Linked DNA regions of Homo sapiens: region 2 is linked to region 1. Evidence: fine-mapped expression QTL. Tissue or cell type: whole blood. Region 1 holds a variant in brackets; the other region holds the start of a gene. Each region is shown on its reference strand, or each on the opposite one.

Region 1 (4,394 bases):
AAAACAGTATACAACTAACATCTTATTTAATGGTGAGAAACTCAAAGCTTTTTCACAAGATCAGGAACAAGGCAAAGATGTCCCATCACACCATTCCTTTTCAACATTGTATTGGAAGTCCTAGCTAATACACAAGACAAGAAACAAACAAAAAAAGGTACACAGATTGAGAGAGAAGAAACAAAACCGTCTTTGTTTGAAGATGACCTGACTGTCTATGAAGAAAATCCAACAGAATCAACAAAAAACTCCTAGAACTAATAAGTGATTGTAGCAAGATTGCAGAATATAAGGTTAATATACAAAAGTCAATAACTTTCCTTTATACTAGCAACAAACAAGTAGAATTTGAATTTTAAAACATGTAACCACTTAAACACTGATGATAGAACATGGTAAAAAATAAAAATAAAGAAATGAAAACACACTACCGTTTACATTAGCACCCCTCAAAATGAAATACTTAGTTATAAATCTATCAAATATGTATATGATTCATATGAACGGAACTGTAAAACTCTGAAAGATAGCAAAGAAAAACTAAATAATGGAAGAGATATTTCATGTTCATGGATAGGAAGACTCAATATTTTCAAGATGTCAGCTCTTTTCAATTTTACCTATGCATTCAATGCAATCCAACTCAAAATCTTAGTAAATTATTTTGTGGATATCTATAGACCAATTCTAAAGTTCATATGGAGAGGCAAAAGACTCAGAATAACCAACTCAATATTGAAGGAGAGGAAGAAAATCAGAAGAGTGACACTACCTGGCTTCAAAAGTTATTACAGAGCTATGGTAATAAAGACAGTGTAACACTAATTTTTTTTTAAGCTTGATAATGTTTTGTTGTGTTTTGAGACAGACTCTCACTCTACTGCCCAGGCTGGAGTGCAAGTGGCACAATCTTGGCTCACTGCAACCTCCACCTCCCAGGTTCAAGTGATTCTTGTGCCTCACCCTCCCAAGTAGTTGAGATTACAGGCCCACACAATCATATATGGCTAATTTTTGTATTTTTAGTAGAGACAGAGTTTTGTCATGTTGGCCAGGGTGGCCTTGAACTCCCGGCCTCAAGTGATCCGCCAACATCGGCCTCCCAAAGTGCTGGGATTACAGGTGTGACCCACCACGACTGGCCAGTGTGGTATTAATTTAAAAACAGGCTAAGCATGGTGGCTCACACCTGTGATCCTAGCACTTTGGGAGGCTGAGGTGGGAGGATCGCTTGAGTCCAAGAGTTCGAGACCAGCCAAGGCTACATAGTGAGACCTCGTCTCTATAAAAAATAGAAAAATTAGTCAGGTATGGTGGTGCATGCTACTCAGGAGGCTAAGGTGAGGGGATCACTTGAGCCCAAGGGTTTGAAGTTGAGGCTACAGTGAGCTGTGATTGTGCCACCACATCCCAGCCTGTGTGACAGAGTGAGGTCCTGTCTCAAAAAAAAAAAAAAAAAAAAAAAAAAAAAAAAAAAAAAAAGACAAATTGGGCAATGGAACAGAATAGAATAGAAAGCCCAGAAATAGACCCACATAAATATAATTATCTTTGGCAAAGGAGCAAGGGTAATACAGTGGAACAAAGATGGTTATTTGAACAAATGATGTTGGAACAACTAGACATCCACATAAAAAAAAATTCATCTAGACACAGACCTTATGCCCTTCACAGGAATGAACTAAAAATGGATTATAGATCTGAACATAATACACAAAACTGTAAGCTCCTAGAAGATAACATAGGAGAAAATCTAGGTGACCTTGGCCTTGGCAATGACTTTTTCAATACAACAACAAAGACAGATCTATGAGAGAAAGAATTGATAAGAGGGACCTCATTAAGATTAAAAAATTCTGCTCTGTGAAAAACAATGTCAAAAGAACAAGAAGATAAGCCACAGTTTGGGAGAAAATATTTGCAAAAGACACATCTGATAAAAGACTATCATCCAAAATATACAAAGAAGTCTCAACAATAAGAAAATGAACAACCCAATTAAAAAATGGGAAAATACCTGAATAAACACCACACCAAAAAATATATACAAATAGTATGCATACAAAAAGAAGTTCAACATCATATGTCATGAGGGAATTGCAAATTAAAACAACAATGAGACACTGCTACG[C/T]ACCCGTTAGAATGATCAAAATTCAGAACACTGACACCACCAAATGCTGGTAAGGATGTGGAGTAAAGGAACACTCATCCATTGCTGGTGAGAATGAAAAACTGTATGGCCACTTCAGAAGGCAATTTGGCAGTTTCTTGCAAAACGAAACATGCTCTTACTAGATGATCCAGCAATCACACTACTTGGTATTTACCCAAATGAATTGAAAACATTGTCTACACGAAAACTTGCACACGAATGTTTATAATGGCTTTAATCATAATTGCCAAAACTGGGAAGCAACCAAAATGTCTCTCAGTAGGGAATGGATAAATAAACTGTGATACCCCCAGGCAATAGAGTATTATTCACTACTAAAAAGAAACGAGCTATCAAGCCATGAAACAACATGGAGGAAACTTAAATGCATATTACTAGGTGAAAGTAGCCAGGCTGAAAAGGCTATATACAGTATGATTCCAACTCTTGGAATTCTGGAAAAGGCAAAACTATGGAGACTATAAAAAAGATAAGTAGTTGCCAGGGGTTGAGGGAAGGAGGGATTAAATAGGCAGAACATAGAGGATTTTTTAGGGCAGTGAAACTATTTTGTATGATACTGCAATGAGGGATACATGTAATTGTGCATTCGCCCAAACACATAGAATGTACCACAGCAAGAGCAGTCCCCAGTGTAAACTATAAATGGAAAAGTCCCTAAATGTTAACTATACAGTGGGGAAGTAGCAGTGTAGGTTTATGGATTGTAACAAATGTACCACTCTGGGGCAGGATGTCAATAGCTGGGGAGGCTGTGCACATGTGGCGCAGGGGACATATAAGAAATCTCTCTACTTTCTGCTCAATTTTGATGTGATCCCAAAACTGTTCTAAAAATAAGTGTGTGTGTGTGTGTGTGTGTGTGTGTGTGTGTGTGTGTAAAATAGCTTATACATATCTACTTTTAACATAGCTTATACATAATCTACTTTAAGGGGGGTGAGGTAGGAAAGAGGGAGCTGTACAATCAAATAAATATAATTGGTATGAATCTCACTCTTGCTACATTTGTTTTCCTTAAACCAACTTAAATCTGACCCCAGGACCTTGTCCTTCCTACATAATCCATGTTGGACACTGTTAGGTTCTTCTTCCTGCCGGGGTGTCCAAGATGCTGCTATAGAGCCCTGAGAATCAGAGGAACATCCCTACTCTGCATTTCATCACAGCTGCCTCTGTCTTCCTCATTGTCCAGGCCTGTAGTATTTCCAGGTAGGGTACCTTTTTGCTTTGAGGTCACATATGGAGCCCAGGAAACTTTGCTGAGGTTGGGGATGCCCTACTGGGGTCTCAGCCTCCCTCTTCTCCATACTCACTCATCCTCCTGAGGCCTGGCTACCCTCTCATGCAGGGTAAGAGTGACCACAGCTCACATGCCTCCGGACCTGGTTCCCTTTCCTTTCAATTGTGTGTGAGTGCAGGGGGAGGGCCTGATTCTCAAAGGCGTTGCACCTGTGTACACACCCATCATAATACTTTTAGCGGTGACCTGCACCATGACAGCAGACAGGGCTCTCTCTCAACACCATCCTGATGTTCTGCTTCAAGAAAAGTCCAGATGGTAAGGGACCACTTAGCTTGGCCACCTGGGAAAACTGGGAGAGGACAAGAGAAAAGTGGAGGGGGGCACAAAGAGGAGAAAAACAATTATTTTCTACTTTTTCAATAGATGATCGCACCTGGTAAGAATCAGGATGGGCCATGGGTGCTATTGAATTCCACTGGCTCCTCCTCCTTTCCCTCCCCACATCTGAGTTATGTCAGCTCTGTGAGGGTCCTCAACTCATGGGGCTGCCCCGCATCCAGGTTCCTCTCTGCTTGTGCCCCACATCTCATGGCTGGGGCCTCTGTTCCTCTTCCTTGGCCTTGAGGTAAAAAAGCCACTTACCTGCTGTCTCCACCACTACACCATGCATTCCCAGGGCCTCAGGGGTTTGGGGAGCTGAGTCTGGGGCCTGACATGTGGAGAGTGACGAAGACAGTTGTGTGAGAAAGGGATTCCACCTCTTTCTACCCAGCAAGCCATGAGAGCCAGGGGGGTAACCTCAACCTGCCTCTCCTCAGATTTCCTCACCTTGCAGCTGCCCAGGAGGCCTCAGGGGCAGAGGACACAGATGGGCCATTCCCGTGGGCATGGCTGCTCCCCCTCATGCAATTCCCTCTTAACCCGCTCTCTGAAATTCCCTATTTCTACTCCTTCCATGCACACCAGAGCAGCAGG
Region 2 (4,394 bases), not on the chromosome of region 1:
CTAACCCCAATCCCTGAGTGGGTACTCACCCCTGGTCCTTAGTCATTTGGGCTTATATTCATGTCATGCTTTTGAGTTCCCTTGACCTATCTCACACCTGGAGACCCCCTTTCTTCCCTTCCGTTGTTGATATATTTTATTCAGCCTTTCACTGTTCGAAGCAGGAGTTCCCTGACTTCTTGACTCCTCAAGTTCCCATAACTTGAATCTTTGTACTTTCCTATCTTTTAAAAAACATTTCTCGAGTTAGCACAGTGTTCTGTAGAAACGACAGGAGGGGTGTCCAATCCAGACATGAGGGTTCCAGGAAGACTTCCTGAAGGAGTAACTGCCTGTTCTGAGACAGGAAGACTGAGCATACAATTAGTCGGGCAAAATAACATGCATGTGCACTGGGGTGACAGTTTGGAGGAGGAGGTGGGGTGGCTGTGGCAGGCAGAAAGTAGAGTACATATGAATATCCAAGGGGAGAGAAAAAGCATATCATGCAAACAGCATATCAAAGAGCATATCACGTTCTGGGAAGCACAGGTTCCAAGAACTGCAAGGAGTTTTGTGTGGGACACAGAGTGAGATATGAGGCTGGTGAGATAAGCAGAGGCCAGTTCATGAACGACTTACAAGCCAGGTAGAAGGGTGGACCTTAGAACAGACAGGAACCAATCAGAACACAGAAGGTGAAATCATCAGGTTAAAAGCAAAACAAATATAATAAATATTCCTTATATAAATATACATGGCTGGTTAGAAATTGCTGAAACAACTTTGCAGACGGGATGACAATCCCAGAGGGCATTCAAGCACTAACCTTGGCATTCCAGCACAACGCTGAACTCTTAGCCCAAGGATGACAAAGCTCAGCCCAGCGCTCTTACTTCACAGAAATTTCCCCCACCTGCTTTGCGGAGGGTGTGAGTAACCCACCGGACCAACTTCTAGACATTTTGGAAATACAGCTCTTTCAAGACCGTTTCCCCAGATCGCCCCCACCACCTCCAACACACATACTGGCCCCCAAAATTCTGCCATAACCTCTTACGTAAGGAAAGAATTTGAGCAGCAGTAGAAACTTGAAAACAAAAGTACCCTGGGCCAAGGGCCAGGGAGTCTATTTTTAGAACATTTTCTCATTGCCTGTTTATCTTTCAGACTCAGCCAAAAAGTCTTCCAGGCGAGTGTTAAAGGAAAAGACGAAAAAAAGGTGATCTAAGACCAAATAGCAGTAGCAATGGTGATCATTTTGGACACTGTGTTCCAATTTCCCCAATGTGCCTTCACTGGCATTTGGTGCCCCCAAAGCCGCTTAATGGAGAATTCATTCAAACCCTGCTCTGCCTTTTGTACTGATGGTAGGATTTGGGCAGGTCAAAGGGAAGACAATAGAAGTTATGGATTTCATAAACTATTAAGCTCGACCAGAACGCTGCTGCTGCTCCTCCAGGCCTCAGTTCTCTCGTTTCTAACATAGGGGTAGTAACACTTGATCTACCGTCACAACAGTAACCAGAAACTACCGCGCCTGTCCCGTACAGTATCCGGTCACTGTTCTCCTTTGTGCCCGGTTAATCCCGGAGAAAAGCAACCATGCATTTGATTATCATAAAAGTCGGGCGCGGTGGCTCACGCCTGTAATCCCAGGCGCTTCGGAAGGCCGAGAAGGGAGTTCGAGACCAGCCTGACCAACATGGAGAAACACCTTCTCTACTAAAAATACAAAATTAGCCGGGCGTGGTGGCACATGCCTGTAATCCCAGCTACTCGGGAGGCTGAGGCAGGAGAATCGCTCGAACCCGGGAGGCGGAGGTTGCGGTGAGCCGAGATAGCGCCACCATTGCACTCCAGCCTGGGCAACAAGAGCGAAACTCCTTCTCAAAAAAAAAAAAAAACGGTAGTAAGCTATTTTAATCCTTTCAAGCTGCAAAAGAGAAAAAGGCTGGCGTTTTGTCTAGAGTTATATTTTCCTCCAAGAGACTAAATAGGTGGCCCCAGGAATTCCGCCACTTGTAAAACGCGCCGCAGAAAACTCTCCCCGACTGGTAAGGACTTAACCCCTTCCGCTCCGCGGCTTAGGACGACTTTTAAGGGCGTCCTCCCCGCGCCCCTGTCCACTCGCTCCAGTTTACTCCACTGGCCTGATTCCGTCTCTCCCAGTCACTCTCCAGTTCTGCCGTGCCGGGGAAGTTTCTGGGGGCTCACTGGGAAGGTCTTCCCGGCGGATCCTGGGCCCAACCACCGAAACCCACACGGTCCTCCTTAAGGAGCTTCCGGGGCCGCGGGTAGAGGCGGGTGTTTTGTTCTTATAAGGAGGAAAAAGTTTTTGTGACATCCAGGAAATGAGTAACTCTGAAGTTCAGTAGAGCCGGCCGCTGCAGGCCAGAAGGTGGGAGCCAGCGGGGGCATCGCCGCCCGCGCCCCTCTAAGTGCCGGGCCGCAAGCTCCACCGCAGCCGCCTGCAAGCAGCGGCGCCTCGGCCCTCGACCTGCGCGCAAAGCCTGTGCTGGAGCCGTCCTCCCGCGGCGGGGACCGGGACCGGGGACCCAAGCCAATCGTAAGTCCCAGGGCAGCCTAGTGTGCTGAAGGAAGAAGGGCGCGATGGAGAGCGCGAGCTCGGAGGAGCTGTGTCGGAGATGGCTGCCGACAGAGGGGGCGCAGGAGGGTGTGGGGAGCGCGGGCGCCTGCTCCTCCCGGGTGGGGGCTGACTTTGGAGACCCCCTTCCCTTAAAGCGCGCGTGCCCAGGCGGGCGTATTGTCTCCTCGCGGTCCCGCATCCTGTTCCCGCCGCGTCGGGGGATGCGTCCCGGGCGCTCGCTCCAGCCAGGGCTGCGGGCAGCTCCTCCTCGAGGCGCGCGCAGCCTCGGAGCCCAGAGCGGGACCACATTTTTGTTCCTAGTGGCCAGGTGACCCGTTACTTCTCACATCTGAGCAGAGCGCTACCGAAGAAAGAAAAGCCGGTTCGCCCTGCTCATTTGCTGCCCCCTTTTCCCCTTCCCCTTCCCTCCCTTCCTGTAAGGGAGGAATAGGCGTGAAGTTTTTTTTTCTCGGTTCATGGTAGTGAAGTTATGGGGCTGCTTCAGGCCGGATAAAATCCCCGCCGCTTCCTCTTTCGGGACTATTAGTGGGCCAGACCTCACGCTGTGCAGACTTGCTCTTGGGCTGCAAATAACTCTCTGCCCCTTCACCCCTAACCCCACCCTCAACCCCATCCCTGTGACTTTGCCATTCTGGCCGCCTGGTGAAGACTCCCGGGGCGGGACTCCCCATCCAAAACGCTTTCTCTTAAAAAAAGAAAAAGAAAAAGAAAAAAAAAGCCACCGACCAGGAAGGTAAAATATTTTACGGAACCAGGCAGGGGCCTCATTTTGCCTTTTGCCCCTCTGCTGGTATGAGAAAAGCACCCTTTCACAACTAGTAGAGTACCAGATACTGGTCTCATTTCACAAACAGTAGAGTACCAGATATTGGTCGCAATCTGGACTCTGGTCTTTTGGATCTAAATCGGGGTCGCGGTCTATTTTCTTGTTCTTTTTTTGGATATGACCCAGTGCTCTTGCCTTTTACAAACCGAGTCTATCTGACTGCCAGCTAAAGTTCATCTGTGGTTGGTGCAGTTTTAGGCCCAGGTGAGCCCTGAAAATAGAGTATCAGAAAAGTGGATTACTGTCTTTCCTCCTTACGAAAACAGAATAGGCTGTGTTTTTGAGTCCTCCCTCCAGCCCTCGTGCCTAAGTGGCTTTCATTGTTTGCTAATTCCCTGTATGTTGCGGCTGCTCTGGGCCATTCTGCCTTCGGATTTTCTCCACTTGTGGGTAACCATGAAGTAGTTATACTGACTCTCTGCTCTCCCTGGGTGCATTCTTCTCATGCTCAGTAAATCTACATTTTACGTAAGATAAAGTAAGCATGTGAAATTATAGCTATCTGTTTGGCAACAAAAGGAATGCAGTTTTGTTTTCGGTTTTGTTTTTTGCATGACTGAGTTCCCAAGCTTAACTTTTCCCTTTGGCATCCTGAGCTTGGGGTCCTAAGGTTGTATTTTCCTTTCACAGCTATCAGCAGAGACAGGTAGCCATCAACAGTTAGGAAAGAGTCTGGGCTGGGTGGCTGCCTGTCTTCCCAGAGCTTTGGGAGGCTGAGGTGGGAGGATTGCTTGAACCCAGGAGTTCCAGGCTTAGAGCTGGGATCACTTGGTTGGGATCACTTGGTTGGAGCTAGGATCGTGCCACTGCACTCCATCCGGGTGACAGAGTTCAGACCCTGTCTTTAACCTACCCCCCAATGCCCCGCTGCCCCCCCCCCCCCAAAAAAAAATAACTGGGCAGGAGAAGGTGCTTTCAGAGTCCAAGACTCAGGTTCCATGTTTCGAGTTGAGAGTCTGCCCCAGTAGGGTTGAGGTG

The links. PIP is the estimated chance that this variant, and not a neighbour inherited with it, causes the effect.
Region 2: ITPRIP starts here. The variant in region 1 is fine-mapped to the expression of ITPRIP in whole blood (TOPMed, PIP 0.95).

Annotation. Positions count from the first base shown.
Region 1 is chr2:86,385,281-86,389,674 of GRCh38, reverse strand. No RefSeq gene overlaps it. Among named protein-coding and RNA genes, the nearest start is that of REEP1, 50 kb to the right of the region's middle. The variant C/T (reference allele first, on the strand shown) is at 2,132.
Region 2 is chr10:104,336,400-104,340,793 of GRCh38, reverse strand. It overlaps ITPRIP (inositol 1,4,5-trisphosphate receptor interacting protein), which reads left to right and starts at 2,329. Exons shown (of 2, transcript NM_001272013.2): 1 at 2,329-2,548. It also overlaps a transcript of CFAP58 not described here. RefSeq lists enhancers at 409-703, 3,452-3,651 and a cis regulatory region at 1-1,186.